3 separate regions of the Homo sapiens genome follow, and all the other regions are linked to region 1. The links come from fine-mapping of genetic effects on gene expression. A gene starts in region 1. Each other region holds a variant in brackets. All regions are shown on one strand. Distances are between the middles of the regions. Region 1 holds the start of STX18-AS1 (STX18 antisense RNA 1 (head to head)). Region 2 overlaps LOC124900165. Region 3 has its middle 78 kb from the start of OTOP1.

Evidence for each region.
Region 2: its variant is fine-mapped to the expression of STX18-AS1 in whole blood (INTERVAL, PIP 0.97). The same link has a PIP of 0.9 or more in prefrontal cortex.
Region 3: its variant is fine-mapped to the expression of STX18-AS1 in esophagus mucosa (GTEx, PIP 0.98).

What each region holds. Positions count from the first base shown.
Region 1 is chr4:4,537,791-4,546,128 of GRCh38, forward strand. STX18-AS1 (STX18 antisense RNA 1 (head to head)) reads left to right here and starts at 4,341. Exons shown (of 6, transcript NR_037888.1): 1 at 4,341-4,685; 2 at 6,948-7,117. It overlaps STX18 (syntaxin 18), which reads right to left and starts at 4,258. Exons shown (of 11, transcript NM_016930.4): 1 at 4,007-4,258. The coding sequence starts at 4,174. It overlaps LOC124900165, which reads left to right and starts at 4,341. Exons shown (of 6, transcript XM_047416490.1): 1 at 4,341-4,685; 2 at 6,948-7,117. RefSeq lists enhancers at 4,128-4,407, 4,132-4,426.
Region 2 is chr4:4,579,738-4,588,075 of GRCh38, forward strand. The region is part of intron 2 of LOC124900165; the gene reads left to right. The region is part of intron 2 of STX18-AS1 (STX18 antisense RNA 1 (head to head)); the gene reads left to right. Among named protein-coding and RNA genes, the nearest start is that of LINC03091, 8.0 kb to the left of the region's middle. RefSeq lists an enhancer at 2,610-3,110. The variant T/C (reference allele first, on the strand shown) is at 3,690.
Region 3 is chr4:4,144,584-4,152,921 of GRCh38, forward strand. It overlaps the pseudogene UNC93B4. Among named protein-coding and RNA genes, the nearest start is that of OTOP1, 78 kb to the right of the region's middle. The variant G/C (reference allele first, on the strand shown) is at 4,926.

The sequences.
Region 1 (8,338 bases):
CATATAACAGATAAGACACATTCAAATCCAAGTCTTTCTGCCCCAGGTTCCATTCAGTATGCAGTATTCAGAATTAACTCAAGAAGAAGAAACTCACTGCCATTCAGAAACCAAACAAATTCTGGTTTAAAAATTACAGGAGAATGTAGTGGGCAGAGGGAGAGCAGCATTAAACCAGGTCAAAGGACCTGGCTTCTACTTATGGCTCTGTGCTATGACCTCAACTGCTACGACTTTGGGCAAGTAATTTCATTTATTTGGGTGTTAGTTTTCTTATCTATTAACAAAATGAACACAAGGTCCTTTTGAGTGAAAAAAAAAAAAACCACAAACAAACAAACATGGGTCTGCTTTAAGCATACAGATTCTACTGTTACTATATGTCAAGTAGATTTCAACTTGAATGTCAAGCCTAATAACAGGTAACGGCTCCTGGGGTACAATGTTGCAAAGGATTCTGAGCTATAGGGATCCACTAAGAAATTAGCACTGGCTTCCATGATCACAAGGAAGAAAAGAAAGTAAAAGCTGCATACCTGCCACACATCTGCCATCACTGAAAGAGTTTCACCTTGGCAAAGAAATGTTACCATCTTTTACGAATGCAGACAGTACTTCTGCACCACCGCTGATTCATCAGTACCTGCTCAGGATTTTCACTCATTCCTCACGCACTTAACTAAATTAAGGAATGAAAGTGCAAGAAAACTAAGTGGTTTGGAAAATACAGCTTGGTGCCACTAAAGAAAATATGTCTAAATGGCCTACATGAGGAGGGGGGAGGTAGTTTGGGGGAACAATAATAATCAGTCTGTTTTTTTAAAATACATACATATAGACTATGTGAGTAGGGTAACTCAGAAGCTACCCTACTTAGCTTGTGAGTTAAGTAGGGTATTATCACGTCCACTTTATAGAAATGGAAAACGAGAGTCAGACTTGCCCAAGTTCACCCATTTCTAAGTAGCAGAAGCGAGATTTGAACCCAAGGCCCAGGTCTCTTTCCAATCCCATCATCCTCACTAGTCCCACACTTCAAATGAGTTAACTAATCAAATTCCCATTGCAGAGTGACATATTCATTATTATTTGGAGTTGTTCGAATAATATAAGTTCCTCCCCCAAATAATCTGAAAAGTCGTTACTCTCCATTTGTAATTTAATGGGTAGACATGCATTTGAGTATATATAAATTTAGTAAAATTGAGCATAAAAGTTAAATGTTTAAAAGAATGATGCAGAAGCAATCAGCCTGTTGTTGGAAGGTAGGGACTGCAATAAAATTGCAGTTTCAATGCAATTTTATTCAACTTAATATAACCTCTACAACAATTCAGTGAGATGGAAATCTGGCATCAGGCATATATTTGAGGAATGGAATGGAAGAATAGAAATTGAACCAGATAAAACGCATCCTAGAAGTAACAGCAAATGCTTCAAGGAAGGCACTTACCAAAAGGCATACTATAACTTATTACATTTCATTAAGTCTGACAACCAGGGCTAAACCTGAATTAGAATATGTGCTTCTGGTATTTACCAGACTTTTCTCTATAAGGAATCCAGGCCAAACAAAATAACAGCCAAACTTTTGACATCTAATTGTAGTAAAAGCACAGGACATCCATCACTAGCTCTTCTAGTTAAACTTCCCACAAGAGAAGATGGGGAGTGGGGAACGGTTGCAAGAACAGGAGATAATACACAAAGCAATGACAACATAAAATCAAAATTGCTTAAAAGAATGTATGTTTCCTCTACGTCAGGGGGACAGTGTCCCTGAACAACACAGCCCATGAACTCACTTAAGGTGATGTGACACCTACTCACATCAATACATAGCAGAACTGCAAGTTGCATTGTCATGCGGTCCAACCCTGTGACATATGCACAAAGCTTTTCTCAAACATCTCTGAAAAGCAGTCATCACTCTGTTTAATCACTTCCAGTGACAGGGAACTCAGCACCCTATGGGACTGTTACTGTCCCTGAGGCCCATTAACTCAAAACTCAAACACATTTTCACCACTCAGGGAGAGGTGGAAGTGATCACAGGGCTCTCCAAAGGGCTTGCCAACCCAACTGTGCCTCCTGTCTCTACCATTCCCAAATCCCCCCTTTCCCTGAGCAGGACTCAAAATTAGCACAGTGTTAATAAATCAGTGGTTTCAGAGTTAGAAGGGACCCTTAAAAAGCCAATACTGTGATATTCATACCACAGTTCTACAAAAGGAATCTCAAGAAGTGCTTGGGCCAAACTGGGAGGGAGAGTGTCCTGTTTCTCTTCCTCTTATTTCAACCTAGGAAGCTCCCACTTTAATTTGTTACATATAGAGGACCAAGGTAGTTTTTTAAAAGGAGGAGGAGAAAAAAAGGACCATTTACAGGTAAATAAACTGAGGTCTTAAAACTTGCTTAATGAAATCATATAGCTAATAGTTGCAGGGTTCAGACAACAACCTCGTCTCTTGGCTCCTTCTCTGGTGCTTTCTCTACCAGATAACATCTGACCATCTACAGGGCAAAATTCAAACTCTGCAATGATACACAAAGCCCTTTAAGATCTCCGCGTCCAATTTTTATGAGAGTCCCACATTCCAGTCTCACTCAAATGTTTATTGAACCAACTTATGTCAGACTGTTACCTACCTCCACAGCTTAGCGCATACTATTCTCTTAGCCTGAGATGTCCTTCTGCACTGGAACCAACTAATCCTCTTTCAAGATTTGTTTTAGGCATCATCGCCTCTATAAAGCCTTTTCTGGTCCTCAGGTAGAACTGACCACATTCTTTTTGTGCCCTACACAACACCTGCAAGGCTTTATGGCACTTGTTTTATGTCTATGTCCGTCTACTCCACCACTGCTTTTACATCATATTACTCTAACACGAGGCTGGTCAGAAGGTAGGTGCTTCATAGACGGTCATCAATAGGGCGAGTGTATTCATCTGGTCCAATCCCCTTTCTAATGTTTAAGTATCCTCTGCTAACTGTCATTAATGCATGCATGACTACATTCATTCAAAAATATCTGAGTGTCTATACAGTGCCAAGTGTATGCCAAGCAGAGAAGGATTTACTGTGAAATTAATGAGGCTTAAGCTTTAGGGTCCCTCTCTTCAATCTTCCAAAGCTCTGAATCTTTCTTGGTGATTTTTATTTCTTGAAGAGGGCAGACAGAACTATATAAGCTGTAGGCCCCACAAAACCTAGATACCTCCTTGGTGTCACGAACACAAAAGGGAACAAGACAAACAGCTCTCCCCTTATGGAGTTTTCTGTTTAATGGGAAAGACAGCCATTTGTTCATTCACTCATTCAACAAACATTTACTAAGCAATGCTATGAGTCATGCATTCTGAGATGAAAACAACACTGTCCCTGCCCTTAAGGAAAAGGTTCCTGTTCCCAGGGAGATGAAGGGACACCTGCTCTGATCAGGGAACAGAAAGTAGTTGAGGTGACTGTAACACTGTGTTTGCGAAAGATTACCCTAAACCCGTCTCAAGAGGAACTGAGTCCTACTTATTGCAGAGACAAAGGGAAGAAAGAGTTCGGCTGAATACAGTTTTTAATCTCAACTAGGGGTGGGAGGCAGACAAGTAAATAGAACAGGCAAATATGGTGTGGTCAGTGCTGCAACAGGAAGCGAAGGACTGTCAGGAGGTTTCCCCTGAGTGCAAGTCTGTAGTGACGGCGAACTCATGACCTCACAAAGCCGCCCATGCACTTTCCAGATAGAGATTTCTGAGGATCTCCTTTCTTGTCCCCCAATCCCTGTCGCCGCAGGAGAAATCTGTTCCCCAATATGCGTCCCCCTTCCTCAAAATAAGGCTGTTCCTTCCCCCAAAAAGCTGTAGGGTCTCTGAGGCCAACTCTTCTGTCCCCCTTAGAGCCACCCCCTTCACACAATGCTTACGGGACGGGGTCTGGTTTGGGGCCCGGGGTCCCTGTCGCAGGACTGCCCCCTCCTCAACCCGCCGTTTCCATAGCAACCAGCTCACCACTTCGCGGGCCCGGCTGGAGAAGTCGCCCTTGGGCCGGGGGCTCCGGCGGAACAGCTCGTCCCGGCTGCCATCGACCCCGCCGCCCACCGCCACTCCCAGCGCCTTGTTCCGCGTCTTCACGGTCTTGACGCTGGCCCGGAATAGCAGCGTGATGTCCACCGCCATAGCGACCCGCACCCTCAGCCCCACACTAGGCCCGCCCACGTAAGCAGCCGGCGACCGCGGCGCGAACCCGGCCGCTGAAGGACTGGTCCTGCCCCACACGCCTCCCCCCGGCAACGGCGACGCGAGAAGAAAGGTTCCGGCCTGCGCCCTGCTACCGCGGCGGGAGGAAAAAGGTTCCGGCCTCAGCCGGCGCACCTGGCGGAGGAGGAACCTCGCGACGCGCTCTCGGGCATCGGTTTCTCCCAGCAAAGCTTGGAGGGTTTAGCTGCGCGGAGAGCTCAGCGAGCTCTTCTGTGTCTGTTTGGGGCGTGTGGGCTCCGGGAGCGTGAGGACCGGGAAGCTAGGAGGCTCCTTCCCTTCTGGCGGCTCCCTCACTGAGACCGGGCGGTTTGGTTGCGGGGGAAGTGGAGACGAGCCACCCTTGACCTTTGACTGCAAGAACTCACCTTGAGCAGGATAGAGGCACGTGGACGGTGACCCTCGGGATGCAATAAATGCTGAGACAGATCAGGTGTGCAAGGCACAGAGCTAGAGGCCAGAGGCCTTTCTTCTCCAACCTTCAGTCACCTCTTTTTAAAGTGAAGCCAGCATCCTCCTCGGGGTTTACTGTGAAAATTAAGTGAGCTGACGCGTGCTGTGTTTTGATGTTGCTTGGCTCCTAGTAAGTGGCCAATAAATGGTAGTAATCGTTAATAATGTTATTATTATAATCACTGTTATTTGTGGTAAAGGAAGAGGCTTTAGAGAAAAGGCGTCACCTGTGCAGAGATTTGAAGGATGAATAGGAAGTTTAGATGGAGACAAAGGTGAAAGAGTGGCCCTAATGCCGCTGGATTCTCTTCATCCTTCATGCATAGTTTTTAATTGTACCGTCTTGAGCCATAGCTATTAAAATTGACAACTCAATCAATGAGTTTCTTCTGCATTTTAGGTTCATGTTCTGTTTTGTGTTGTTTTTTGAGACGGGGGTCTACTATGTTGCCCAGGCTGGATTGCAGTGGCTAGTCAGAGGCGCCATCCTAGCTCACTACAGCTGGAACGCCAGGGCTCAAACGATCCTCCCGGACTCAGCCTCCTGAGTAGCTGGGACTATAGGCACGTGCAACCGTGCCTGGCCTATGGTTCAGTTTTAATTCAAAATCTCATTGATTTCTTCAAGATTTCTTTTTTCATAAAGAGGAAGCACAAGTAGAATATGTATTAAAACAGCAGTTTTAATGGTCATCAAGATAAAATTTTCACAATACTAAGATGTTATTTGCCTTTTCGCTCTGATTTTCTTATGAGTTGCATACAGTTGAGTTTGCTGGAGACTGTGATATTGCAACGGAGTAAATGCAGAACAGCTGTTTTCTATTAAGCCAGACTCCAAAAAAAGACTTTCAAAAACATCAAGTTTTTGTTTTGATTTCTCATATAGTAAATGTCGATAATGTCAATATAAACCAAAATTGTTTAGAGCCCTTAATAATTTTTAAGTGTGCAAAAGAGTTGAGACCAAAAGTTTGAGAACCACTGTGTTAAAAAAATAAAGTTTATCAGAAATAGATGTCAAGAAAGTATATATTTACCAGAAAGGAGGAAGGAAAAGATTTTTTTTTTCTTTGAGGCGGAGTCTTGCTCTGTCGCCCAGGCTGGAGCAAGCTCCGCCTCCCGGGTTCACGCCATTCTCCTGCCTCAGTCTCCCGAGTAGCTGGGACTACAGGCGCCCACCGCCACGCCTGGCTAATTCTTTTGTATTTTTAGTAGAGATGGGGTTTCACCGTGTTAGCCAGGATGGTCTCGATCTCCTGACCTCGTGATCCGCCTGCCTCAGCCTCCCAAAATGCTGGGATTACAGGCGTGAGCCACCGCGCCCGGCCAGGAAAAGATTATTTAAACCCAAACTGTAGCCACTTCTTGCAGTTTAAGGAAAATAAATTTCCATACAGCTTTCTTCCACCTACTGAGGAAAAGAGAAAGAAATTACAAAATCTCTGCCAATGATTCTATCTTGCATAAATGGCCCTTTGTTTAATCCAGACATTAATCAGTTTTTGGCCATGCAAAGTTAAGCCTGGGGTAGAGTAGAAGGAAAGAGAGATTGCCCTGCATAATAAAGTGAGGGGGATTGAATTGGGGGGAAGAAAAGAGAAGCCAGAACCCAGGGAGGGGGCCGGGAAAGTACAAAGTAGGTAACTGGGAAGGATCTTTGAGTGGGAGGGAGGCTGAACTACACCAAGCCTTCAGTGAGTGGTGCCTTGTGTAAACCGTGTGTTTGGTGCAGTTGGATATTTTGGGTAGAAGGGTAGGGACAAAGATCTAAGTTTTCTGTCTGGATTTGCAAGAGCAGAGAAGATTGTGGTGGATATAAGACCCAAGTGAGCTCAAAACATCAGGCTGTAAATCCACAAGTGACCACAAGTACATAAAATTCCTAAATAAGTCACAAAGATCTTGAGGAGGCTGCTGAACTTTCCACAGACCATGGGATATGGGGTTGTGCTTTTTACATTTTGTGTTTACTCTTTAATTTAAAAGAGCAAAGTGACTTCAGTTGACAGTTGACTAATATTAAGCCCCATAAAGCTGAGAGGGGATGTGGGTTAAAAGGATGTGCAGAAATGTTGTGAGAGTATACTACTGCAACTCCAGGGCTCAAACAATCCTCCCGGCTCAGCCTCCTGAGTATCTGGGACTATAGGCGCGTGCCACCATGCCTGGCCTGTTGGAGGTAGCACACAACTGCCCAGTTGGATGTAGTATACAAATTTTGTTTTCTTTATGCATTCAGCAAACATTGAGTGGGCCAGACACTGTTCTGAAAAATACGCAGTCGACTTTTGAACAGCACAGGCTTGAACTGCATGCGGCCACTAATACTCGGACTTCCTTCTGCCTCTGCCATCCCTAAGACAGCAAGACCCACCCCTCCTGCTCCTCAGCCTACTCGATGTGATGATGGTGAGTATGAAGACCTTTACTTTATGATGATCCACTTCCATTTAATGGATAGTAAATATATTTTCTCTTCCTATGATTTTCTTAATACCATTTTCTTTTCTCTAGCTTACTTTATTGAAAGAATACAGTATCTAATACATATGACATGCAAAATATGTGTTAACGGACTGTTTATGTTATTGATAAGGATTCTGGTCAACAGTAGGCTATTATTAGTTAAGATGTTAGGGAGTCAGAAGTTATACACAAATTTCCAACTGTGAGGGGTGGAGGAGTCATCAAGGATCAACTGTATTGGCACCCCTAAATATAGCTCACTACAGCAGCAACACCTATGCAAGGAGACTAGATGTAGGCTGCCAGTGAAAACCAACGTGTAATTTCTGGGCAGCAAATTTAAGAGCTAATGTATGATTCACGATGCTCTTTTCCCTCTGCTATGACAACCCTTAATGTTCCAATGTTCCATCAGCCTGAGTCCTTAAGTAAAGATGACATGGAGCATAGCCAACCAAGGACATTGTATTAGTCAGAGTTCTCTAGAGGGACAGAACTAATAGGATAGGTGTATATATAAAGGGGAGCTTATTAAGGAGTATTGACTCACATGATCACAAGGTGAGGTCCCACAATAGGCCATCTGCAAGCTGAGGAGCAAGGAGAGACAGTCCAAGTCCCAAAGCTGAAGAACTTGGAGTCTGATGTTCCAGGGCAGGAAGCATCCAGCACGGGAGAAAGATGTAGGCCAGAAGACTAAGCCAGTCTAGTCTTTCCATGTTCTTCTGCCTGCTTTTCTTCTGGCCATGCTGGCAGCTGATTAGATTGTACCCACCTAGATTGAGAGTGGGTCTGCCTTTCCCAGTTCACTGACTCAAACGTTAATCTCCTTTGGCAACACCCTCACAGACACACCCAGGAACAATACTTTGCATCCTTCAGTCAAGTTGACACTCAATATTAACCATCACAGACATGTACTAAGATTGAGAATTGTCCACAGATTTGTGGGTGTTTGTTAACTGCAGCATAATTAGCCTGTCCTGATTGATGACAACCCATATCTAGGTATCTACCAAAACAGGAATATTAGATGTATTCTCCACTCACCATCGTAACAGTATTATTCCTCAGTGAATGAAGCATGGAGAGGAAAGAACAGTTGTGCCTAAACCTAACCAATGGAAAAGACCAGGCTGGCAGGGACAGAGTGGCAGAAACCTT
Region 2 (8,338 bases), 42 kb after region 1:
CCTAGTTAGTAAATGATGGAGTCAGGACATTACCTGACCTTGGCTGACTGACATCAAAGATCATTGTAGATGAACGCACAGTTGTAAGAAGTAATACAGAGAGATTTGTGTAACTCTTATCCAGTTTTCTCCAAAGGGAGCATCTTGCAAAACTGTACTACAATATCATAACAAAGATATTGACACTGATAAAATCCACCAGCCTTATTCAGATTTCCTCAGTTTTACTTGTCCTCATGTGAGTGTATTTAGTTCTTTGCAATTTTAACATGTATGTAGGTCCATGTATGTAGCGCCACAGTCAAGATACACAACAGCTCTGTCAGCACAGGCTTCTGCAGCCTTTAATAATCACATCTACTTCTCCATGTCACCCAGCATCCCTCATTCTTGTAACACTAAACCTGTTCTCTATCTCTATAATTTCATTATTTCGAGAATGTTCTGTAAGTGGAAGTATATGCTTCTGGGATTGGCTTTTTGACTCAGTCTAATTCTCTTGAGAGTCACTGAGTTATGGCATGCATCAGTAGTGTTTTGTTTTTTTTTTTAATTTTAACTGAGTGGTGTTCCATGGCATAGAAGTACCACAGTTTCTTTAACCATTTACCCACTGAAGAATATCTGTGTCCAGTTTCTGGCCATTATGAGAAATGCTGCTGTGAACATTCACGTACAGGTGTTTGTGCAAACAAAAGTTTTTACTTTTCTGGGAAAAATGTCCAAGGGTATAAAGTCCTTGCTTTTACTCCCAACGTTGTGTGGCCCTCTAGGTTGGTTGCAAAGATCTTTTTTAAAAAGAGCAATGTAAGTTGAGATCTTACTATATATTTGATACTATGGTAAGTACTTTGCATGGATCAACTCATAAGTCCACAAAACAACCTTAGGCTTAAGTACTGGTGATATCCCCATTTTGCAGATGAGGAAACTGAGGCGTAGAGAAGCTACATAGTCTAAGGACACACAGAGTGTAAACAGTTGAGCCAGGATTTGAGCTCAGGCTGCCTGACTCCAGATCTGGCTATTTAACCAGCCTATGAATGAAGTTTCTTGTTTTGGCGAGGGGCAAACTTCTTCTGAAAGTAGAACTTGTATCCAGCAATTTGCATAACTCAAGTGCCCAGCACTAAGAACTTTTACAAAATGATGAATATCCCCTTGGAACCACCACTCAGATCAAGATATGAAGCCTGATAGATGCCCTGAAGTCCCCCTCCTATGTGCCTCCTGTCATTATCCCCTAAGAAAGGGAACCGCTATTTGTACTGCAGTTGCTGTATATTAGTTTTGCTCATTTTTGGATTTTATATAAATGAAACCATAGAGTAAGCTGTCTTTTATATCTGGCTTCCTTCATTCAACAATGTGCGTGCAAGACTCCTCCCTGTAGCCGTGTATAGTAGTCATGTGCTCTTTCTTCTTGCTGCCCTGTATTCCATTGTATGGATATGCCACAGCTTGTTTATTTCTTCTCCAGTTGAATGGCATGTGGTTTGCTTCCGGTTTTGGCTATCATGATTTATGCTGCTATACACACATAAATATAAATATTTAGAGTTTTCCTAGTTATGTTATTATTGATTTCTAGCTTAATTTCACTATGATCAGAGAGTATAACTGTATGATGATAAACCTTTCAAACTCATTGAGATTGGCTGGGCATGGTGGCTCTCGCCTGTAATCCCAGCACTTTGAGAGGCCCAGGCAGGAGGATCACTTGAGCCCAGGAGTTTGAGACCAGTTTGAGCAACATAGTGAGACTCCATTTCTACAAAAAATTTAAAAAAAAATAGCTGGGCATGGTGATGCACATCTATGGTCCTGAGGTTGCGGGGATAGCTTGAGCCTCAGAGATTGAGGCTGCTGTGAGCCACGGTTGTGCCACTGCACTCTAGCCTGGGCAACAGAGTGAGACCCTGTCTCAAAAAAAAAAAAAAAAAGGGAATATGTAAACTGCAGCTGTTGGTTGCATTGCCTTTTTTTTTTTTTTTTTTTTTTTGAGACAGGGTCTCATTCTGTTGCCCAGACTAGAGTGCAACGACATGATCTCGGCTCACTGCAACCTCTGTCTCCTGGGTTCAAGTGATTCTCCTGCCTTAGCCTCCCCAGTAGCTGGGATTACAGGCACGTGCCGCCATACCTGGCTAATTTTTATATTATTAGTAGAGACAGTGTTTCACCATGTTGGCCAGGCTCGTCTCAAACTCCTGACCTCAGGTGATCCACCTGCCTCAGCCTCCCAAAGAGCTGGGATTATAGGTGTGAGCCACCGTGCTCGGCCAGCTCTATTTATTTTTATTGGCTCCAGTTCATTAATCATGTTAAAATCTTTTATATCTTTACTGAATTTCTCTCTGCTTTTTCTTTCAATAACTGAGAGATGTATTTTAAAATCTCCACTAGGATAATGGATTTGACTGTTTCTCCTTTTGTCCCACTTTCTTTGAGGCTATGTTTTTTGCTGCATGCAAATTTTAAATTATTATCTTATTAAATGACTTTTTGATATTATAAAATATCTCTAGTAACAAATCTTGCCTTACAGAATGTATTGTCTTTATATGTTATATAACTACATATGTATGTGTTATAATTATGTAGTGTTGTTATTAAGTATATGTTAATGTAGTTATGTATCAGCTTTTCCTGTCCTTTTAATTTCAGTTTTTCAGACTCCTTATCTTTAAGGTAAATGTTTCATATAATCACAATGTAATTGGGTTTTACTATTTTAGATATCTGATAATTTTTGGATTGCTAAAAAAATTTTGAAAATTATTCCATTTTCCCCACCCTGCTAACTTATTCGTTATGCATTCTGTATTATTCCTGTACCTGTTCCCGTAGAGCAGCGGTCCCCAATCTTTTCCGCACCAGGGACCAGTTTAATGGAAGACAATTTTTTTCATGGATCGGGGGCAGGGGAATGGTTTTGGGATGAAACTGTTCCAGCTCAGGTCATCAGGCATTGTTAGATTCTCATAAAGAGCCTGCAACCTAGATCCCTGGAATGTGCAGCTCACGATAGGGTTGGCGCTCCTATGAGAATCTAATGCAGCTGCTGATCTGACAGGAGGCGGAGCTCAGGCGGCAATGCTCGCTCACCCCTCACTCACCTCCTGCTGTGCGGCCTGGTTCCTAACAGGCCACAGACTGCTACCTGTCCATGGCCCAGAGGTTGGGAACCCCTGCCCTAGAGAGTAGAATACTCATTGTTGGCTTGTTACATTCTGTTTAGTTTTGGATGTTACCATGGCAAGTGTTGTTAGTACAACACCATTAGTCCATTTCTCTCCTTCTGCTTTTTGTGCTACGTTATCATGTATTTAATTCTACATATATTTTAATTTCCTGAGAACATTGTTACTTTTGGTTTAAGTTGTCAGAATTTACTTATATTTACCCATATACCAATATATTTACCATTCCCAGCACTCCTCATTTATTTCTACCTTTTCGTGTTTCTATCTTGAATCATTTCCTTTAATACTTCTTTTAGTGTTGGTCTACTGGCAATGCATTTTCAAAGTTTTTTCTTGCCTGAAGTATCTTCATTTTACCTTTATTTTATTTTTAATTGGTGTGATGGTTAATATTAGGTGTCAACTTGATTGGATTGAGGGATGCCTAGATAGCTGGTAAAGTATTGTTTGTGGGCGTGTCTGTGAGGGCGTTGCCAGAGGAGA[T/C]TGACATTCGAGTCAGCGGGCTGGGAGAGGCAGACCCACCCTCACTCTGGGTGGGCACCATCCCATCAGCTACCCAGACGGAGTTTTACTATGTTGGCCAGGCTGGTTTCGAATTCCTGACCTCAGGTTATCCACTTGCCTTGGCCTCCCAAAGTGCTGGGATTATAGGCATGAGCCACTGCGCCCAGCCCAGACTATATATTTTTATGTTTCATGCTAACAGTTTTCAGATCCTACCCACCTTTCTTCCCCTTTTACTCCACATCTGGGCTTTACCTTTGTGATCTAATCACCTCCCAAAGCCTTCACTTCCTAATACTATCACCTTGGGGCTTCGGTTTCAACACATGAATTTTGTGGGAGGACACAGACATTCAGAACCCAGCACCAAACAATGAATCACCACAATCTAGTCAAGTTGACACGTGCAATTCGCCACCAACTGCTCCATTTTTTCTCTCCTGTATTCTTGTGCCTCCAATTACATGTTGTTAAATATCTTCTACTTGGTCCCATATATATGTCTAATTTTCTGTATTTTTATCCTTTTTCTCTCTGCTTTAGTTTGAATATTTTTATATTTCTATTTTCTGGTTCACTTGTTCTCTCTTCTGATAGGTATACTGAGCTAACAATTAAAATTTTACTTTCTATTGTATATTTTTCAATTTTAGGATTTCCAATTGGCTATTTTTAAATAGATGCCAGTTTCTGGGGATTTTCTCCACCACTCTGCCTGTCTTTTGGCATTGTAATCATGGCTATTTTAAAGTTTATGTCTGGAAAGTTCAATACCTGGTTCTTCTGCTGTCTGTTTTTACTCTCCATTTTTCTCTTGATTTTCAGCATTTAATCATGTTGCCTGTCCTGCCTGGTAATTTTTTATTGCAGGCTGAAAATTGCATATGAAAAGTTATAGAGCTTATGGTTGGTGTTATATTCTTTCAGAAAGGGTTTAATTTTCTTCTTATTGGCACATAGAGTATGGCCAAATCATCTTTATCTAGTCACAGCTGGCCTGTTTCACATTTCCTCTTATTCTAACCCTTTTTAGGGTTTCGGTGGAAAGCTTGAGGTGTTTGTTGGGAGCCCTAATCCTTAACTTGCTGTGAACTCCAGTTTTTATTTCCCCAACCCCATGAGACTGCCATGTTCTCTGCTCATCTTTTAGCTTTAGAAGTTGCTTTATAGTGGGGTTCTCTGGGCCTCTTTCTGTGATTACACAGGATTTCTCTTGGGGAGAAATCATATACAGACTGTAGGACTCACTTCTCTGTGGTTCCCCGTCATCTGGTATCTAGTCCCTTATGTCATGGCCACTTTTTACTCCAAACTCTAATTTTTCCAGTCTGCAGCACAAAAGAGGGTCCTCATCAGAACCACACCATGCTGGCAACCTGATCTCAGCTTTCCATCTTCCAGACTTGTGAGAAATGAATTTCTGTTATCTATAAGCCAGCCAGTCTGTGATATTTTGTTATAGCAGCTTAAACTGATGAAGACCAAAACTGGTACCAAAAAGTGGGGGTGCCTCCTATAACAAATACCTAAAAATGTGGAAGCAGTTTTGGGTAATGGGTAGAAGCTGGAAGAGTTTTGAAGTGCCCACTAGGAGAGGTCAAAATTGTTAAGACTTTTGAAGTGCATACTAGGAAAGGTCAAAATTGTCACTAAAAACAAAAAACAAAAAACATAAAAACAGGATCTTGCTTTGTCACTCAGGCTGGAGAGCAGTGGTGCAATCATGGCTCACTGCAGCCTTGACTTCCTGGGCTCAAGTAATCCTACTGCCTCCGCCTCCCCAGTGGCTAGGGCTACTGATGTGTGCCATCACACCTGACTAATTTTTTTGATTTTTAGTAGATAGATGGTCTTGCTATGTTGCCCAGGCTGGTCTTCAACTCCTGAGCTCAACTATTCTCCTGCCTTGGCCTCTCAAAGTGCTGGAATTACAGCACTTTTGGCCACTGTGCCTGGCCAAAAGTACTTTTAAAGATGATTCAGAAAGGAAAGATGAGAGGTATTGAGAAAGCTTCTGTCTTCTTAGAGAATACATAAATAATCGTGTACAGAATGTTGGTGGAAATATGGCTAATAAAGGCCATTCTGATGAGGTGTCTGACAGGAATGAGGAACAAATTGTTAGACAATGGAAAAAAGGCAATCCTTGTTATAAAGTGGCAAAAAACCTTGGCTGAATTGTCTTTGCATTCTAGTATTTTTGTGGAAGATAAAACTCGTGAGCAGTGAAAGTGGATATTTAGCAGAGGAGATTTCTAAGCCAAGTGTTGAAGAAGTCACTGGCTTCCTTCTGACCACTTAAGGCAAAACATAAGAAGATGGAAATGGCTTGAAGATGGAATTATCGAGCAAAAGGAACTAGAACTTAAAGATGTGGAAAATTCTCAGCCTACTCATATTGCAAAAATGGAGAAAGTGTGTTTGGAAAATAACACTAAGGGTGTGGCTAACTGACCATTTGATATGGAGGTCAGTATAGGTGTGAACCATGGACTTAATCAACCAGCGGTTTCCCAGCAGGACAACTGTCAGTTTGAACTAAATAGGAAGGGGATGGTAAAGAATGAAGGAAAGTTGTTGGACTTTTTGGATTTTACAGGACAGGACTATAGAGCTATTCAGTTGTGAATGTGTGCTCTTGTTAAAGACAAGGGGAAGAATGAACCCAAGGGCAATGCAGAGGTCAGTAGGTTACCTTCTTAGTTTCAAAAGGAGGGACCATTGCCTTGCTTTCAACAGAAATGAGCTCCACCCAAAGCTGTTGGGGATACCACCTCCTGGCAGAGCCCTGGAGCTGCAAGTCCTGTCCAGCAGAGCTTTTTGGAGAAGACCACCTCCCAAGTGGGTCTGCAAGACTGTACCTCTGCCCCAGTGTGTCCAGTGGCCCTAGAGGGGAGAGCATCAAGCCACAGAGGATTATCTTCAGCCTGAAGACCTGGTGAAAGTTGTCTTGTGAGGTTTGGGACTCCCTTGGGATCTGTTAACCCTTCTTTCTTTTCTATTTCTCCGTGTCAGAATGGGAATGTCTATCTATGTCTGTCTCACCACTGTATTTTGAAAACATGTTTGGTTTCACATGTTTGCAGCTGTGAATTTTGCCTCAGAATGAATTGTACTCTGAGTCTCACCTTATCTGATTTAGATGATACTTAGATAAGAGTTTGGAGTTGATGATGCTAGAATGAGTTAAAACTTTGAGGGCTTTGGGGATGGAATGAATATATTTTACATGTGAGAAGGATATGATCTTTGCGGGGTTTGGAACAGAATGCAGTGGACTAATGTTCGTGTTACCTCCAAAATTTCTATATTGAAATCTTAATCCCAATATGATAGTATTTGGAAATCAGGCCTTTGGGAAGTGATTAGGTCATGAGGGTAGAGCCCTGATAAATGAGATTGATGCTTTTATAAGAAGAGGCCATTTCATATGGAACCAAAATAGATCCTGTATAGCCAAGACAATCTTAAGCAAAAAGAACAAAGCTGGAGGCCTCATGCTATCTGACTTCAAACTATACTACAAAGCTACAGTATCCAAAGCAGCATGGTATTGGTACCAAAACAGACATATAGGCCAATGGAACAGAACAGAGGCCTCAAAAGGAACATCACACATCTACAACCATCTGTTCTTTGACAAGTCTGACAAAAACAAGCAATGGAGAAAGGACCTCCTATTTAATACATGGTACTGGGAAAACTGGCTAGCCATATGCAGAAAATTGAAACTGGACCCCTTCCTTAAACCTTCTACAAAAATTAACTCAAGATGGATTAACGATTTAAATGTAAAACCCAAAACCATAAAAACCCTAGAAGAAAACCTAGGCAATCATAGGGATGGGCAAAGACTTCGTGAGGAAAACGCCAAAAGCAATTGCAACAAAAGCCAGAATTGATAAATGGGATCTAATTAATCTAAAGAGCTTTTGCACAACAAAAGAAACTAGCATCAGAGTGAACAGGCAACCTACAGAATGGGAGAAAATGTTTGCAATCTACCCATCTGACAAATGTCTAATATCCAGAATTTACAAGAAACTTAAACAAATTTACAAGAAAAAACAAACAACCCCATCAAAAAGTGGGCAAAGGATATGAACAGACACTTCTCAAAAGAAGACATTTATGAGCCAGCAAACACATGAAAAGAAGTTCAACATCACTGATAGTTAGAGAACTGCAAACTAAAACGACAGTGAGATACCATCTCATGCCAGTTGGAATGGCAATTATTAAAAAGTCAGGAAACAATAGATGCTGGTGAGGCTGTTGGTGGGAATGTAAATTAGTTCAACCATTGTGGAAGACAGTGTGGCAATTCCTCAGGATATAGAACCAGAAATACCATTTGACCTAGCAATCCCATTACTGGGTATATATGCCAAAAGGAATATAAATCATTCTACTATAAAGACACATGCACATGTATGTTTATTGCAGCACTATTTACAATAGCAGACATAGAACCAACCCAAATGCCCATCAATTGATAGACTGGATAAAGAAAATGTGGTACATATACACCATGGAATACTATGCAGCCATAAAAAGGAATGAGATCATGTCCTTTGCAGGGACATGGATGGAGCTGGAAGCCATCATCCTCAGCAAACTAACACAGG
Region 3 (8,338 bases), 390 kb before region 1:
GAGACAGAGTCTCGCTCTGTCCTCCAGGCTGAAGTGCGGTGGCGCGATCTTGGCTCACTGCAACCTCCGTCTCCCAGGTTCAAGCCATTCTTGTGCCTCAGCCTCCAGAGTAGCTGGGATCACAGGGACGTGCCACCATGCCCAGCTAATTTTTGTGTTTTTAGTAGAGACAGGGTTTCACAGCCTGTTACCCAGGCTGGTCTCGAACTCCAGACTTCAGGTGATACAGCCACCTCAGCGTCTCAAAATGCTGGGATTACAGGCATGAGCCACTGCTCCCAGCCCACTCCCTGCTATTTTTAGTTCTATTTTTATTTTCATTTTTTGAGACGGAGTTTCGCTCTTGTTGCTTAGGCTGGATGGAGTGCCAAGGCCCCGTCTCGGCTAACTGCAACCTCTGCCTCCCAGTTCAAGCGATTCTCCTGCCTCAGCCTCCCGAGTAGCTGTGATTACAGCCATCTGCCACCACGCCCGGATAATTTTTGTATTTTTAGAAGAGACGAGGTTTCACCATGTCGGTCATGCTGGTTTCAAACTCCCTACCTCAGGCAATCCACTCGCCTCGGCCTCCCAAAGTGCTGGGATTACAGGCGTGAGCCACCGTGCCCAGCCTTTAGTTCTATTTTTAAAAAATGTTTAGCAACTGGGACTTGCTAGACCGAGCCACCATCTTTTGGGAGCAGAGCATGAGGAGCCTGCTCCCCTTCAGGCCATGAAGGGAGACAGACCCAACATCTGGACAACAGGGTACCAAACAGCCCACAGGATGGCTGTGATGCACCCACAAATCCCCTCAGAGATGGGCAAACTGAGACTGGCTGGAGGTGGGCCAGTAAGTGGGGTGCTGAGTTGGGGGCCACCCAGTGGGCTGCAGGAATGGGGCCTTGGCCCAGAGACTGGCTTGGGAAGGGGTGGCGTTTAGGAAGCTGTGCAGCCAGGGCAGGGGCTAAGGAAGTACCTGTCACTGGGCATGGGGCCCCCAACCCTGCCCAGTCTCACCTTCATGTGCAGGCTCGAGCCCAGGTACACGGGGAAGATGGCCACAGCCTGCCACCAGTGGTAGATGTGAAGATGAAGTCCTGTCTCTCCTTGTCTTCTTACAAGATTCCCAGGAGTGCTGCAGGCAGGCAGTGCAGGGCAGTCAGGGGATAGGTGTCACCTGGGGCCTGGGGATGCCTAGCTACCATCTATGAACTTTATTAAGCCCTGTATGTGTCCCAGCCCGGGACCAGAGAGCACCTAGAAAGTGCTGTGAGCCGGTCCTGGCCTGCCCCCTGGTGGAGACCCTGGTCACCACACTGCTCATACGCTAAGCAGAAGTAGGAGCAGGTGCGCCGGGCTGTGTGGATGCAGGTGGTCCCGCTCCGCACCACATGCGTGGCCTCAAAAGAAGAAAGCTCTGTGCTTAGTCATGTCCTGTCCCCAACCCCAGGTGTGCAGTGCCAAGCTTGCAGGCGCTGTTTCTCCTTCTCAGCCGGGACTAGAGAGATCGAACTGTTTGCAGCTGCCAACTCTGCAAATCAAACCTGAAGCTAAGCATGGAAAGGGGGGCTTCCCTTCCAGTGAGTCCTCCCAGGGTGGGCAACAAGAGTAATGGATTGGGAGTCAGAAGATGCACACTCGTTCTCAGGACTGTAATGTTGTCTCCGTGGGTGATTTGGGTACTTAACTCCCCAGAGCTGCTTTTCCCAATGGTGACATGAGCCTATGCCTATTGTGTGCTGTGTTCTGAAGTTCTAAAGTGAGAAAGTGGGCATGGCACCTGCCAAATCATAGGGGCCACTATTAACACCTTCACCAGGCACTCAGGACATGAACACTCCTGTCTTGGGGCCCTGCAGGGTGACTTTACCCCCACAGTGCTGCTATGAAGAGATAAGGATCCCCCAGGGTTCACCAGAGGAGATGGGATATGGAGCTGGGCAGAGGGGATGCCATGACCAGAGAGGGCACAACATGGGTCCAAGATACCCAGGATGGACTCGGCCCAGAATTGGCTATCCTTGGGCAAAACGGCCAAGAGACTGTGGTGCAGTATGAGGCTCCAGCCCCTGCTACAGACAGAGACACCGAGCCACCCTCTGCCCTGCCAGGAGCAGGCATGACCTCTGCCACTCCACACCCCCAAGGATGACGTTCAAACCTGTTCTTAGATTCGGCCCATCAGAACAGACACTGACATGGATGTCCCGCAGGACTGTGCCTATGTGTGCTAGCTGTGTGTCACTGCGTGTGCCCATCTGTGGGCAGGGAGCATCCTGGAGCTGAACATGGGCCCACCCGCTGCCTTCTGCAAACAGGGCCCTGTTCCCCAGCAGCCCAGACCTGGTGCCTGGACTCTGGTACTGAGCAGACTGGGTTGGGGCTGCAGGCCTGCTCCTCTCTATGCAAAGGCCCATGTCTGTATCTATGCCGTGGATGTACAACAGGCCACTTGCTCCTACCACATGCTCCGTGAGGCAGAGACCAAAACATCTGCTCCAAGTGTCACGAAAACTATGCCAGGTAAGCCCTGTCCCCTGGTATGAAAAGGGAGAATCCCTGATGTGTTTTTCACACTATCCCTAAGGGGTGTCCACAGAGCCCCACACCTGCCCCCTGTAGCCAAGAGATTTCACACTGACCCTCCAGTGTTGATGGGGCCCTGTGCCCGCCCTGGGGTATTAACGGAATGTCCATGGCGTGGAACCCCCACACCTGTCTCCAGGCTGTCCACGCCCTACCCATCTGCCCCCAGTGTGTCCATGAAACTTCCCTTCCACCCCCGGAGTGTCCACAGGAAGCCCCACCTGCCTCTGCCATGTCCACAGGACCCTATGTGACCATGGGACCCCATATCTGTCCCTGGGATGTCTATGTCTAGCCAACCACCCACAGATAGCCATAAAGCATCCTGCCCCGCCCCCCCCCCCCCCCAGTGCCCACAGCTATACTCACTGCTGAGTTCAGTCTTGTTCAGGGTGCTGCCCACGCCCCAAAGGGCAGCTGCCACACAGAGGATCCAGCTGTGTTGCAGGACCCGAGGCACAGGGGCCCAGAAAAAGAGGATGAAGGTGAGCAGCAGGTGCACCCCTGCTGCAGCCACGAGGGGCACTGGGCGTGGCAGCCACAGGCCCAGCAGGCCCAGGAGTGAGGCGGCTGAGGCGCCCAGGCTGTAAGCCACGAAGACGTAAGCCAGCCGCTCCAGCCCCACCGAGCACACGCCATAGCCCTGCGGGGGGACAAGGGGTGAGTGTTGAAGTCCGGAACAGCCCAGACCCCAGTCTCAGCCCTCCCCACATCGCGGGGGGTGCCTCACCCCCCTGCGATGGGGGTCCTAAGAGCCAGGGGGGAGAGGGGCTGGCTTGTACTCCCCGCATCGCGGGGGGTGCCTCACCTCCCTGCGATGGGGGTCCTAAGAGCCAGTGGGGGGAAGAGGGACTGGCTCTTACTCCCCGCATGGCCGGGGGTGCCTCAACCCCCTGCAATGGGGGTCCTAAGAGCCAGGAGGGGAAGAGGGGCTGGCTCTTATTCCCCGCATCGCGGGAAGTGTGTACAACCCCTGCGATATTGGCAGTAATATCATCCTCTCCGCCTGAACCTAAGAAACAATATCTCAGGAACATGTACACCCCCTGCGATATTGGAAGTAACATCATTTTCTCCCCCTCCGGATATTCGGAACAATATCACAGTGGGTGTGTACAGCCCCTGCGACATTGCCGCTAGTTTCTTCCTCTCCCTCCCAGGATAGAAGGAAGAATGTCACAAGGGGGTGTACACCCCCTGCGATATTGGGGGTAATATCCTCCTCTCCCCCGCTGCCTATTAGGAACAATGTTACACAAGGGGTGTACACCCCCTGCTATATTGGGAGTGATATCATCCTCTCTGTCCCTGGATATAAGGAACAATAACCCTAGGGAGTGTACACCTCCTGCAATATTCAGACTAATATCATCCTCTCGCCCCCTGGATATTAGGATCAATATCACAGGGGTGGTGAGCACCCCCGGCGAAATTGGAAGAAATATCCTCTCCACCTTTGGATGTTCGGAACAGTATCACGGGGGAGGTCTCCGCCCACTGCGATTTTGGGAGTCGTAACATCCGCTCCCACCCAGGATATTAGGAACAAGATGACCGAAGGGATGTACACCCACTGCGATATTTTCCATAATGTCATTCTCTACCCCCTGGCTATTAGGAGTAACATCGTAGAGGAGTGTAACGCTTTCTGCGATATTGGGAGTCATATCCTCTCCCCCACAGATATCAGGAACAGTTTTATTAATTATTAATATTAATAAATATAATAACAATTAATAGTAATCATTGATATTAATAACTACAGTGGAGACAGTAAACCTTAATGTGGATAAAAATATTAATGATTACAATTAATAATTAACAGCAATATCAATATTAATAATAAAATAATGATATCACTAATTAATGTTACTTAAATCCATCATAAGTGATGTTGGTAATAAAACAATGATTAATATTAATATTAATAACTAATATTAAAAATGACATTCATAGTAAGAATTAATTTTAATCATGCATAATCATATCTTTAAAATAATCATTAATGACTAATAAAATTATACTATTAATTAATATTACCATTGATAATCATTAATGAGACTGATGTTTAATAATTCATAGTATTATTACTCCTAATACAGCAGGGGGTGTACACCTACCTGCGATATTGTTCCTAATATCCAGGGATGGAGAGCATGATATTAGTTTTCATATCGCAATAGGTGTACACTCACCCTGTGACACTGATCCTAATATCCAGCGGGTGGAGTATGACATGACTGCCAACATAGCAATGAATGTACAGCCACCCGGTGATATTGCTCCTAATATTCACGGAAGAAGCATATGATATTACTCCCAGTATCGCAGGGAGTGTACACCTCTTCTGTGATATT[G/C]TTCCTAGTATCCCGAGGAGGAGAGGGTGATAATAATTCCAGCATCGCAGGCTGTGTTCACCCACCCTGTGATATTGTTATTAATATCCTGAAAGGGAGAGGATGATATTACTCTCCATAACAGATAGATATGACTCCCCATAATAGAGCAGGAGGTGTACACCCACCCTGTGATTTTCTTCCTCATATTCAGAGGCCGAGAGGTTGATATTACTCCCAATATCGCAGGAAGTGTACACCCCCGTGTGAGATGGTCCTTCGTAATATTCAAAGGCGTAGGGGGTGATATGACTACATATATCGCAGAAAGTGGACACCCCCCAGGGATATTGTTCCCATGATCCTGGAGGGAAGAGGATGACATTACTTTAAATATCACAGAAGGTGGACACGCCCCCACTGATATTGTCTCTAATTGCAACGTGGGAGAGGAGGATATGACACCGAATAACGCAGGGAGTAGAAATACCCCTGTGATACTGTTCTTAATATTCAGGGAGGAAGAGGATGATATTACTCCCAATACAGACGGGTGTACACCCGTCTGTGAAATAGATCACAATTTCCAGAGGGGAGATGATATTACTCACAATGTGGTAAACAGGCTGTGAGTCCACCGCCGATCCTAAAAACCACGGGGGGAAGAGGGGCAGGCTCTTACTCCCCGCATCGCGATGGGTGCCTCACCCCCCTGCGATGGGGGTCCTAAGAGACAAGGGGGGAAGAGGGGCTGGCTTTTACTATTCCTGAGGGAATAGTTTAGAGGGACTCATTCCCTGCTACCGTGGGTGAGATGTCTATGAAAAGGACAACCAGTGGGGGAGGGTAGCAAAATTTTGAAGTAGATTTCTGAGATCCCCAGCACAACCAGGAACAGAAACTCCACACTCTGCTGAGCGGATAGTTTGCACATTGGTCTCCTCCCATCTGCCCACCGCACTCTCCTGTTTGTCCTGAGGAGGAAACAAAACAAGGCTCCCAACCGTCCCTCAGCACTCACTTGAAGGTGTGGCCCGTCCCTCCACACCTGTGGGTATTTCTAGTCGGGTGGGATGAGAGACTGAGAAAAGAAATAAGACACAGAGACAAAGTATGGAGAAACAACAGTGAGCCTAGGGGACCGGCGCTCAGCATACGAAGGACCTGCACTGGCACAGGCCTCTGAGTTCCCTCTGTTTTTATTGATTATTATTTTTATTATTTTAGCAAAAAGGAATGTAGTAGGAGGGCAGGGTGATAATAAGGACAAGGTCAGCAACGAAGAGGTGAGCAATAGAATCTATGTCATAAGGAAGTTCAAGGGAAGGTACTATGACTGGACGTGTACGTAAGCCAGATTGATGTTTCTCTCCACCCAAACATCTCAGTGGAGTAAAGAATAACAAGGCAGCATTGCTGCAAACATGTCTCACCTCCAGCCATAGGGCAGTTTTACCCCCATCTCAGAATTGAACAAATGTATAATCGGGTTTTATACCGAGACATTCAGTTCCCAGGGGCAGGCAGGAGACAGTGGCCTTTCTCTCTCTCAACTGCAAGAGGCTTTCCTCTTTGACTAATCCACCTCAGCACAGACCCTTTACTGGTGTCGGGCTCGGGGACGGTCAGGTCTTTCTCCTCCCACGAGGCCACTTTTCAGACTATCACATGGGGAGAAATCTTGGACAATACCCCTCTTTCAAGGGCAGGGCTCCCTGTGGCTTTCCACAGTGTATTGTGCCCCTGGTTTATTGAGACTAGAAAATGGCGATGACTTTTACCAAGTATACTGCTTGGAAACATCTTGTTAACAAGGCACGTCCTGCACAGCCCTAGATCCCTTAAACCTTGATTTCATACAACACATGCTTTTGTGAGCTTCAGGTTGGGTCAAAGTGGCTGGGGCAAAGCTACACATTAACAACATCTCAGCAAAGCAATTGTTGAAAGTACAGGTCTTTCTCAAAATGGAGTCTCTTATGTCTTTCCTTTCTACATAGACACAGTAACAGTCTGATTGCTCTTTCTTTTGCCTACACTCACTGAACTGCCCTTCCCATCTGCTGGGCCATGACCACGGAGAACAGGTCCACTGTCCTCCCTGTGTGGTGCACCATGGAGGCTCAGACTCCGGCCTCAAGGCTGGCAAGAAGACAGGTTGAGACATGAGCCTCCTGATACTGGTGACGGGAGTGGAGCCCACAGGACTGGAACCTCACACTGCAGGGCTGGAGGCACAGACTGACTATTTACTATTCTGTGGCCTGGGGTGCTCAAGGCACAGAGCTCCTTATTAGCCAAAGTCACCCAAGTTCCCCAACCTCTAAAGATTTCCTCATAATAATGCAAGAAGAAGAAGAGAAAAGTGAGTGTCCATAGAAGCTTTGGGGCTCTTCCTCTAATCAGGAGAAAGCTGGTGTGTATTCTTCACTTCTTTCTTTTCTTTTTAAACATCCAACTGCTTTAATTTTCATCTTTTATTATGGGAAAATATACCACATATAAATATTAAAAATTATAAATATATATTAGTTTATATAGAATGGCCAGTATAAACATTTAGTTTCCACGCTTTTTCAGTTTACAGTTTCATGACATTAAGTACGTTCACATTGTTTAGCAACCATCACCGCCATCGTCTCCGGAACAGTTTTATCTTTCAAAATGGAAATTGCACCCTTTCACCAAGCTCTCCACTCCTCTCTCTCACCCACCCCTGGGGGACACCTTTCTAGTTTGCAACTCTATGAGTTTAACTACTCTAGACACTTGATAGATAAGTGGAATCATACCGTGTTTAATTTTTTTGTTTTGGAGACAGAGTCTTTCTCTGTCACCCCGGCTGGAGTGCAGTGGCGTGATGTCGCCTCACTGCAACCTCCACATCGTGGGTTCAAGCGATTCTTGTGTCTCAGTCTCCCGAGTAGCTGGGATTACAGGCGTGCGCTACCACGCCCAGCTAATTTTTGTATTTTTAATAGAGACCATATTGGCCAGGATGGTCTCGAACTCCTGATCTGAAGTGATCCGCCTGGCTCAGCCTCCCCAAGTGCTGGGGTTACAGGTGCGAGCCACAGAGACTGGGCGTGTTTATCCTTTTGGGATTTATTTATTTCACTGACGATAATGTTTTCAAGGTTCATCCATGTTGCGGCCTGCGTCAGAAGTGCCTCTCTGTTTTTTGTTTGTTTGTTTGTTTGTTTGCTCATTTGACTTTGTTTTGTTTTGTGTTTCCATGGAGTCTCACTCTGTCGCACAGGCTGGAGTGCAGCGCCACAATCTGGGCTCACTGCAACCTCCGCCTCCCGGGTTCCAGCCATTCTTGTGCCTCAGCCTCCCGAGTGCTTGGTACTATAGGCACACCCCACCACACTCGTCTGATTTTTTGCATTTTCAGTAGAGACAGGGTTTCACCAGGATGGCCAGGTTGATCT